Homo sapiens: one gene and its partners. The protein of the gene in region 2 interacts with the protein of the main gene of each other region in a pairwise test. Each region holds a gene or a part of one and is shown on either strand. Other genes may lie near its edges.

The links.
Region 1: the proteins of SLC10A6 (region 2) and TMEM50B interact in binary tests that used the Homo sapiens proteins (3 or more experiments, as listed by UniProt).
Region 3: the proteins of SLC10A6 (region 2) and BMP10 interact in binary tests that used the Homo sapiens proteins (3 or more experiments, as listed by UniProt).

Annotation. Positions count from the first base shown.
Region 1 is NC_000021.9:33,455,910-33,459,563, reverse strand, and holds part of TMEM50B (transmembrane protein 50B), read left to right. Parts: intron 1-3,466; coding exon of another isoform or gene 3,467-3,549; exon of another isoform or gene 3,550-3,560; intron 3,561-3,654.
Region 2 is NC_000004.12:86,835,755-86,839,408, reverse strand, and holds part of SLC10A6 (sodium-dependent organic anion transporter), read left to right. Parts: intron 1-3,654. UniProt on the Homo sapiens protein: Transports sulfoconjugated steroid hormones from the extracellular compartment into the cytosol in a sodium-dependent manner without hydrolysis.
Region 3 is NC_000002.12:68,869,231-68,872,984, forward strand, and holds the start of BMP10 (bone morphogenetic protein 10 preproprotein), read right to left. Parts: upstream 2,168-3,754; 5' UTR 2,129-2,167; coding exon 1,795-2,128; intron 1-1,794. UniProt on the Homo sapiens protein: Required for maintaining the proliferative activity of embryonic cardiomyocytes by preventing premature activation of the negative cell cycle regulator CDKN1C/p57KIP and maintaining the required expression levels of cardiogenic factors such as MEF2C and NKX2-5.

The DNA of each region.
Region 1 (3,654 bases), on a different chromosome or scaffold from region 2:
CCCAAGTAGCTGGGATTACAGGTGCACGCCACCACACCCAGCTAATTTTTGTATTTTTTTAGTAGAGACAGGGTTTCACCATGTTGGCCAGGCTGGTCTCAAACTCCTGACCTCAAGTGATCCACCCATCTTGGTCTCCCAAAGTGCTGGGATTACAGGTGTGAGCCACCATGCCCAGCCAATCCTGTAATTTTTAAGTCATGGGTACAGGGGGAGTTTTTTAAGGGCAAGACTGAACACATATGTATACTCTTCATACAGAAACAGCTGATGGAGTGGGATGAGCTCTTATTACACCATGCTGAAATCTGTGGCTCTGCCAGGTGCCATAGCTTTTCATTCACAGTAGTGATGAAAAATAGAACCCAGTTTCAGAAATGTCTCTGGAAGCGTCGGAAGACTGTTTCACTGGCCCTCTTCCTTTGCTCCTAAGACAGGAGTCAGTTTCAGAGAACGCAATTTATTCATCCTCTGACTCCTCTACCTCTGGAATCTCTTTGTCAGCCTTCTTTGCTTAACTGTCACATCTCCTTGTCCTGACTCACAGCTGGTTTTTGAATACTTTTGATAGTATCATTTAAGTCTCATAGTTTGATCAGTATAAGATCTTTGGAATACTTTTGTTTTTCTTTTGTCTTTCACTTGATACAAAATAAGTCAGATTACAAGAGGACAGTGGTTGGCTTAAATAACATTGGTCACCAACTGTATCTAAAATGTGTTTTTTAGTTAATTAAAAATACTACTAGAGCACATAATTCTGGTATGAAGCATATCTGAAGGAAAATGCTTTTTTAAAGATAGCTTCATTGAGATATAATTTGCATACCATATAATTCAGCCATTTAAAATATGCAGTTCAGTGTTTTTAGTATTTTCACAGAATTATGCTACCATCATCACAATCCAATTTGAGAATATTTTTATCACTGCCATACCCATTAGCAGTCACTCCCCATTACTCCTTCCCCTAGCCCTAGGCAGCCACTAATGTACTTTCTGTCTGTATCTATTTCATACACATGGAATCTTATAGGAAAGTGTTTTTTTGAGACAGAACCTTGCTCTGTCGCCCAGGCTGGAGTGCAGTGGCGTGATCTCGGCTCACTGCAACCTCTGCCTCCCAGGTTCAAGCAATTCTCCTTTCTCAGCCTCCTAAGTAGCTGGGACTGCAGGTGCATGCCACCACGCCCAGATAATTTTTGTATTTTTAGTAGAGATGGGGTTTCACCATATTGGTCAGGCTGGTCTCGAATTCCTGACCTCAGGTGATCCACCCACCTCAGCCTCCCAAAGTGCTGGTATTACAGGCGTGAGCCACTGTGCCCAGCCGGAAAGTGTGTTTTAAACTCATTTTATCCCTGACTGTAAGAAGGGTGGGCTGCTGTCACTGATTTTCTTAAAAGGTCTCCATAGTTATGTTAAAGAAAAACTTTAGATAAATTAGCAATTTGAGCAAACCAAGAAGAGGTTCGGAGAGCTTCACCCAGCAGCATGAGCAGCTGTAGGCTGAACACAAGGCAAAGACAAGAAATTTTTAGATTGTCTGTAGCTATATGTTTGTCTTATTTGTGCATGGTCTCATCAGTTGGCTGCTTGGGATTGGCTAAAGCTTAGCCGTTTGTGATTGACTAAAATTCAGCTATTTATTAAAAAATATAACCCTAGGTTTCAGTTCGTTTACGTAAGTTAGGTTCCGGGGGGTGGGTTGGGGTCACACAGGAACTCAGAGTAGGGAGATAGCCTCAGGTTAATGGCTTCCTGCTTATTTACTTTAGCAGTTGAAGTGATCCATGAGCTTTACAGTTTCTATAGTGAAAATAGGGATAAATTGCCATTTCTGTAAGGTATGTAGGGAAATATTGTTTGTAAAGGCTTTACTATTGTTGAGTGTATTTTTTTTTTTTTTTTTGAGTTGGAGTTTCACTCTTGTCGCCCAGGCTGGAGTGCAATGGCACAGTCTCGGCTCACTGCAACCTCTGCCTCCCGGGTTCAAGCGATTCTCCTGCCTCAGCTTCCCGAATAGCTGGGATTATAGCCGCCTGCCACGACTCCCAGCTAATTTTTTGTATTTTTAGTAGAGACAGGGTTTCACCATGTTGGCCAAGCTGGTCTTGAAGTCCTGATCTCAGACGATCTACCCACCTTGGCCTCCCAAAGTGTTGGGATTACAGGCATGAACCACCGCTCCCAGCCAATTGTATCTTAATATTTAAAGAACTAGTAAATATTGATAAATTTCTTGATTGTGAATTTCATCTTTCTATTTCAACAGCATTACTCATTTAAATATACTTTTCTTTTTTTTTTAAGATGGAGTTTCGCCCTGTCGTCCAGGCTAGAGTGCAGTGGTATAGTCTTGGCCCACGGCAACCTCTGCCTCCTGGGTTCAAGTGATTCTCCTGTCTCAATCTCCCAAGTAGCTGGGATTACAGCCATCCACCACCACACTTGGCTAATTTTGTATTTTTAGTAGAGACAGGGTTTCCCCATGTTGGCCAGGCTGGTCTCAAACTCCTGACCTCAAGTGATCTACCCGCCTCGGCCCCCCAAAGTGCTGGGATTACAAGCGTGAGTCACCACACCCAGCCTAAATATACTTTTCTATTTGTAAAGTGAATATGACTTTATTTCAGAGAGCATTTCTAGGCCATGTTTCAAATCTTTTACTGTACAGATTTGCTTGAACTATTAATATTCATAGTAATAGCTAACTTTTATATATTACTTTATAGGCTAGATACTGTTCTAAGCACTATATAGAGTCACTCATCTAATTCTTACACTCTGGAGTAGGTGCTATTACAATGCCCGTTTTACAGGTGAGGAAATGAAGATATGCTGAGGTTAAATAATTTGCCCAAGGTCATACAGTTAGTCATTGGTATAGATAGGATTCAAACCTGGGTCTGGCTCAAACTTGGAGCTCTTAACCATGCTGCTGTATTGTTTGCTATGATATCAAGAGCTCAGAATTGAACCAGTTTCTTCATCTTCTCCAGTATTTTTTAAATCAACATTTGTAGTTTTACAAAAGTTAATAATCCACAAAAATTTAAGTAGTTTCCATTTTGTTTCTTTTCTTTTCCTATAAAGATAGTAACCATTTCCTCCAGGATAGATTCAGTGAAAGAGAATGATAAATTCTAACTGTGTTATTTATATCTGACATATTTGCATGATAAAACTCCTGGATTGAGAGCCAGGCATTGTGGTGTGTGCCTGTAGTCCCATCCACTTGGGACGCTGAGGCAGGAGGATCACTTGAGCCCAGGAGTTTGGGCTGTAGTTTGCTATGATTGTGCCTGTCAGTAGCTGCTGCACTCCAGTCTGGGCAATATAGTGAGGCCCCATTTCTTTAAAAACAAACACAAAAAACCTCTTGAATTCATGAAAGAAAATAAATTAACAGACTGTTTAAAAGTCAAGAATTTATTTTGTATGTTTTTACGATTTTGCATTTCAGTGTTGGCCATAGGAGGCAAAGGAGCAAGTTACTGCTTCCTCAGCAGTTTTGATGTAGCTAGAACCAGCAATTACTTTGACTAAAAGAAAACTTTGTAAGTTCATTGACTTTTATCCAGAGTAAGAGCAGTCCTTTGCTTTGGGGGAATTAAATTGGCATTTTCTTCTTTCAGTTTCATTATAGATGTC
Region 2 (3,654 bases):
TGTGAGCATAGCTCACTGCAGCCTCAAACTCCTGAGCTCAAGCCATCCTCCTGCCTCAGCCTCCCGAGTAGCTGGGACTACAGGTGTGTACCACCACATTCAGCTAATTTTTGTACTTTTTTTTTTTTTTTTTTTGTAGAGACCAGGGTCTCTCTATGTTGCTCAGGCTGTTGTTAAACTCCTGGTCTTAAGCAATCCTCCCAATTCAGCCTCCCAAATTGCTGGAATTACAGGCATGAGGCACTGCACCTGGTCTGATTCCTTTAAAAAGAAAAAATAATGAAAGAAAAAAATCCTATTGATTTAACAAACAATCATGAAATAAATGGACTGCTTAAAAGAAAAATAAAAGAGTAGAAGGATGTACACAAATACTTGCAAGTTATCTAAGTTTGGATTTCTGAAAGGAGCACCAATCAGCTAAATATTTGCTTCTTAAAATTTTACTTGCTTTTGTCTGGGAAGAGCATAATTTTTTTTTTTTTTTTTTTTTTTTGAGACACTGTCACCCAGGCTGGAGTGCAATGGCATGATCTCGGCTCACTGCAACCTCCATCTCCCAGGCTCAAGCAATTCTCCTGCCTCAGCCTCCCGAGTAGCTGGGATTACAGGCGTGTGCCACCATGCCCGGCTAATTTTTGTATTTTTTTTAGAGATGGGGTTTCACCATGTTGGCCAAGCTGGTCTCGAACTCCTGACCTCAGGTAATCTGCACGCCTTGGCCTCCCAAAGTGCTGGGATTACAGGCATGAGCCACCATGCCCTGCTGGGAGAGCATAATTTTATAGAAAGTCTCTTTTTCTGGATTGCTATGGGGCTGTTTACCATTTGAACTAAGTATAAAGGGGTCATTTCAGTAAGATTTTTACCAATGTTCACCTGGAGATACGTGACATATGACGGAGACAGAGAGAATATTTCCATAGCACCAGTGTGTTGACATTGGTTCATTCTTTGATTCATACATTTATTCAGTAAGTATTTAACGAGCTCTTCCAATATGCTGCAGCGTGAGACTATGCCAGGTCTCCTAGAGATGGAGAGGAAAATAGGACCTGGCTGTCATGCCACTCACTCTGGCACAGATGGACAGGTACATAAGTACTTGTGTAGGGTACAGCATGTGTATAATTCATGAGCCAATGTCAATAAAACCATGTCCAGAGGGCCATGGATTCAGAATCCTAGAAGCAGGATCGCTAATTTTCCTAGATATTGCCAGACACCCTCTGTGGTGTACCATTTTTACCAGCAATGAGTGAGAGCACAGAGGGAATCTTTTTAGTATCATTGAAGTAAAACAGATGCTGCTTTGTCAAGAGTATAAACATTCTTCTGGCAGAAAATGTTAAAGTAGTCATAGACGTATTATTTTATAGACAGGGTAATTGGATGGAAGCAATGGTGATATATATTAGGAGGAAGAGTGACAGATGACTTGTAGACCCAATAAAGTGCTGAAGGACCTTCTGTCTATGCAGAAGACCTTGACGTATGAAGGGCCTCCTCCCTCTCCTTTGTAGAGCAGGAGGGCAGTCTGCTTCTCAGTCTGTCAGTCATTTGTGCCTTGAGCACAGAATGAGCACAGTGTCTATAAACAGTTTGTACATGCTTAAACAGATTGTGTAATTTTTTCCAGCAAATTGAAAGATAAAATATTTGACTGGTCTGATGGGTATCTTCTTTCCATTTATTTTCTTTCCCCTAATTTTACTAATGCATTCTTTCACTGGTTCTATCACTCAGGTAGGTACAAAATACAGCCTTAACTTGCGATTTGGGAGTGAGACTGAGATGGAAAGAATAGATTTGGGATGGAAGGCACCAAAAAGTGGGGTAAGGTTGAATATTTCTTCAGTTCTCATCCTCCCTGATTTTTATTGGCTTTTAGCCTTCATTTGGGAGCTTTCTTTTCTTAGCTTTCATGAAATATAACCTCCCAGCTCTCCACTGACTTCTTTTTTAAATTTTATTTTTAATTGACAAGTTAAATTATGTATATTTATGGTGTACAACATGATGTTTTGCTTACTTGCTTCTCAAATCCCAGCCTGCCTGCCTGCCTTCCTTCCTTCCTTCCTTCCTTCCTTCCTTCCTTCCTTCCTTCCTTCCTTCCTTTCTTTTTCTTTCTTTCTTTCTTTCTTTCTTTCTTTCTTTCTTTCTTTCTTTCTTTCTTTCTTTCTCTCTCTCTCTCTCTCTCTCTCTCTACATGCACCATGGGCTCTTCTTCCTCTCCCTGGTTTAGAGCAAAGGAGGCTTTACAATATATAAAATATTAACTATCAGTTAATGTAACTAAGTGCTTTTCCCTAAATAAATTTAGACCAAAAATATATATGGAAAATACAAAAACACAGTATATTATGGCCGGGCGTGGTGGCTCATGCACTTTAGGAGGCCGAGGCGGGTGGATCACCTGAGGTTAGGAGTTCGAGACAGCCTGGCCAACATGGTGAAATCCCATCTCTACTAAAAATACAAAAATTACCTGGGTGTGGTGGTGGGCATCTGTAATCCCAGCTACTCAGGAGGCTGAGGCAGGAGAATCACTTGAACCCAGGAGGTGGAGGTTGCAGTGAGCCGAGATTGCGCCACTGCACTCCAGCCTGGGCGACAGAGTGGGACTCCATTTCAAAAAACAAAACAAAACAAAACCCCAAAAAATCTGCAACAAATTACAAATGTGTGAAGCAGTAACTTAGTTCATATAATGTAATAACAATATAGTAATTGTCTTAGTCCATTTTGTGCTGCTGTACAGGATACCTGAGACTGGTTAATGTATAGAGAAGAGAAATTATTCCCTTACATTCTGGAGGCTGGGAAGTCTAAGATGAAGGTGCTGGCATCTATTGTCTGGTGAGGTCCTTCTTGCTCCTCACGTGGTGGAAGAGAGAAGGGCAAAAAGGAACAAACTTCCTTGGTGGAGTCCTCTTAAAATAGCATTAATTCATTCATGAAGGTGGATTCATTGTGACCTAAACACCTCCCAGAAAGCTCCACCTCTCAATACTGTTGTCTTAGGGATTTGATTTCCAACCTATGAATTTTGGAGGACACATTCAGACCATAGCAGTAATCACGATACACAGTTTTTGAGGACTTCAAACCAAGTACTCTTCCCCCTCTGTCACAGACATTATGTACTTAAAAGTTCTTAAGAACCATTGCGCTTAAAATGTGTTAGCCTTTTGACTTAGAAACAATTAACCTCAATAATAACAGAGATAAACAAACCAGTTTTCCAGTAGAAATCATTCTGGATTTGTTGAACAAAGACCACAACTTCCTTCTGATGGTCTCAGTTGTTTTCCTGGTAAAGCTATGTAGCATGGCTGTTGGTTTTGGTTTGGTTCGTCCGGCTCACAAACCCACATTTCACTTTCCAAGGTGGCCAGAGACAACCCCAGTAATGACACAGATAAACAGACTGATTGTCTTTAGAAATCTTTCCAGGTTTGTTCACCAAAGACTGGATGTCCCACTATCACCTTACTTAACACAACCCCTCTAACTGATGCTAAGTGACTCAGCTTTTTTGTATATCACACCATCATTTTGAAGCCTAGAAATCTTACTTTGTACTCTAACTCATCACTCTACTTCAATCTCAAATCTCAGTCCCTTCCTTTTCTTTTCTTTTCTTTCTCTCTC
Region 3 (3,754 bases), on a different chromosome or scaffold from region 2:
AGGAGCACGCTTTTTTCACCTTGGAGGTGGCACTTTTTTTTCCCAAGATGGGGTAGGTTTGGAGTTTTTTTGGTCTTTCTCTCCTAGGGAGCTGCACTAAGCAGATCCAAAGAGTCAGAAGAGAGGCAATAGTAGCCAACAGGGCATGTCCTGTGCGATTTCTGTCCTCAGGCTGCACATTTCCTGCAGACTGGCAGAGGTGCTGGCGGCTGGGTTGTTTACTAAGAGATGTGTTCCTGCCCTCAATAATCTCCAGTAATAATAAGCACAGTAAACTCCACATCCTGACCTGGATCATCCAGATACTCTATGAGAGAAGTGAGAACGGAAAACGTTTCTAGTTTTCCAGGGGATGCAAACAACATTTTCTCACCCACACCCTGAGCCAGACACTTAGGGCTCAGTGCTGAGAAGTATTAGGGAGGGTTCTTACAGGAGGAAGTTGTTCATTTTCAATTCAGACTCACCTCCAAAAGCAATCTGTAATCTCAACTTGCCATTTCCATGAGAAAGATATTATGAATTATAAATTTTGGCAGCCAACTCAATTTTAAAGGGAGATAATATCTTAGGGACTAAGGAATACCTACTCAACATTTATTCCAGTACCTAGAATATTAAGTAACTCATTAGTAGTCACTAAAGTTTGATCAGCACTTCATAGTAAATGGAGTGCTTTCTTATCTGTAACCTCCTTTGAGTCACTCAACTATGTTATGTAGGTATTATTACTCCCACTTTATAGATGAGGAAATTGAGGCTCTGAGGCATCAGCTAATTATTCACAACCACTAAGCCAACTAGCTCTCAAAATCCCAAATCCTGAGCTATTTCTTCACTATTACCTTTCTTCTTTCAAGAACATCTGGCCAATATTAACGGGAAGCTTCTTTTATACCTGGTTAGTGACTATAAAAGCATAACTGGCAAAAATTAAATTAGTTCCTTTGGACCTTCAGCTTCTACTATAGATATCTAGATATCAGGGGTTTTTTTTCCTACTAGGACCATATTAACCAAAAAACAAACAAACAAACAAACAAACAAAAACATTAACTTGCTAGCTCATTAGATTTAGTTACCAAATTTAAAGACCTAAGAGAAGAAAACACACTTTTCCCACCAATAATTCAAAGCTTGTACGTTGCTCTTTATAAAGACGGAAATGATGAGCTGGATGATTAATGGGCCATCTACACTTCCTGGAAACTGTAAACAGTGCTTTAAGGATGTACATGACACATCAAACAACACAGCCTTAGGAAGAATCTTTAAAATATATTTCCATCCTGTTTGAACATTTCTTAAATAAGGTCACAAAATAAAAACTTATCAAAAGTTTGAACAAAACACAAATCACAATTTGATGTTTTTTGACTGTTTTTACCCTTTTTATTCTAAGTAGAAGTTGAGAAATTTTTTAGTTAATTAAAAGCCCATATGGCAATCAAGGCCTATTTGGAAAATGACAAAGGTACGGCAGTAGACCAACATTAATTCTTTGTATTACTTGGTGTTCAAATTAACATTTTTTAAAAGGACCCAATTATGATGTCAAATTGATAGATGTTTTGTGGCTTTGGATTAAAAGATGTTTGTAAGTATTTTTCGAGGTTCCTGAAATGACTATATAATTGGTATAGAACAAAATGTGCCTTGTTTTTGTGTATCCATATGTATTTAACATCCTTATATAGATGTATTTACCCTTACCTATATCATTCCCATGCATTGTAAATTTACTTATTGTGTCTTGAAAAAAATCCTAGCAAAATTTCATCAGCAAAAACTTACCTTCATTCTTGAAACTCCTAATGATGTTGGCAGAGGGCATGGAGGTCCGATCTGTTGCAAATTTGTTGTAGAGTTCCAACATGTACTCTGGTGGGTCCACCTTGGCTGAATCCTGCGTGGGGATGTCAGAGAGGTTTAGTGTCTTAAGAAACTCATCCTTCATGCTCTGGAGCAGTGTGTTAAAGTCGACACCGTCTTGCTCTGAGAAAACATCACCAAAGAGGGACATATCTTCTTCCAGAGGAGACTGCTCTAGGTTCATGATGGGGCTGCCAGAAACCAAGTAAGCTGCCAGGCAGAAAAGAGCGCACAGTGTCAGGACCAGAGAGCCCATGACTCCGCTCGAGCTCCTAGGCCAAGCCAGGAAGGTTTAGCTTCCCTGGGCTCTAAGTGGCAGTTTTATCTTGTGGAACGTAAATGTCTCCTGTCACTGGAGACAAGTTTGGAAACTCTTCCTCTCTCTCTCCCTCCCCCTACCACTCTTCCTCTCCCCCTAAAAGTCAGGTTGCAGTAATTGGATAACAAAATCCCCTATAGGGGCCTAGCCTTTCTTATCTCCCTAGTGTAAACTTGTGCACCAGAATTTGTTTCTATCTTGCAATCCCTATTTCTTTTAATGAGCATTTTGTAAACATTTCCACATTCTGACACTGGTTGAGAGATAGGACAATTTTCTCTTTGCAAAGGCTCTGCTTCTCTTCCCTTCAATTCACTTCCTTTCAGCAGGAATGCCTAAATTCTGTTTTTATGGGGCTTAGTTTCACACATGCATATAATAGGTATAAGAATCAACATAATGCACATCAATGGTGATACATGTTAATTTGAGAGGTAGGGCTCAGATAAACACTTGTGAAGACAGACCAAATATCCAAACTTTCCAAGTTTAAGTTAATAGCTATAAATGAATTATATAAATTTTTAGAAGTGTACCTTTTTAGAAACAGGAAAGTATAAACTTCATGATTGACAGGCTTTTTCCTACCTATTTGATCTGGCTAAAATAGCATTTGAAAAATAGGGCAAGTGCTTAGTTATACTGGCAACTAGAATTTATTAGATGCTTCCTACAAACAGGCATTGTACTGAGTGCTTTACACCTATCATCAAGTGTGCTCCTGTAATAACCGTATCATTATCTCCATCACATATATGGGTCAGTGAAGTGCCATAGCTTGCCAGAGGCCACAAAGTTGCAAAGTGATGGGGCCACAATTTCAACCAAGGCAGCCTGATTCTTATGAAGAATAAAACAGTCACACTTTTAAACCACTCTTCTACCAGACTAGGGCATGGGCAATAATGCTGAGAGGCCAACACGTCCCCAGATCAGCCTGGAGGCAGGAGGCAGGCAGAAATTTGTAGCTGGATGTGGACCTCAGGTCCTCCATCTGTGCAATGAGTTGTTAATATAACCAACATCTCTGCGAAATTCATCCTTCTGACTCAATCAAAATTGTCATCAAGAGGCTCCAGCAAAAGCTTGGTGTGATGGTTAATACTTACTGTCAACTTGATTGGATTGCAGGATGCAAAGTATTGATCCCGGGTGTGTCTGTGAGGGTGTTGCCAAAGGAGATTAACATTTGAATCAGTGGGCTGGGAAAGGTAGACCCACCCTTAATCTAGCTAGGCACCATCTAATCAGCCGCCAGCACGGTTAGAATATAAAGCAGGCAGAAAAACGTGAAAAGACGAGACTGGCCTAGACTTTCAGCCTATCTTTCTCCCATGCTGGATGCTTCCTGTCCTTGAATATGGGACTCCAAGTTCTTCAGTCGGGGAACTTGGACTGGCTCTCCTCGATCCTTAGCTTGCAGACAGCCTATTGTGGGACCTTGTGATCGTGTGAGTTAATACTTAATAAACTCAGAAATATATCTCCATCCCCTATTAGTTCTGTCCCTCTAGAGAACCCTGACTAATACACTCGGCAAACAACATTACTAGGCACACAAAA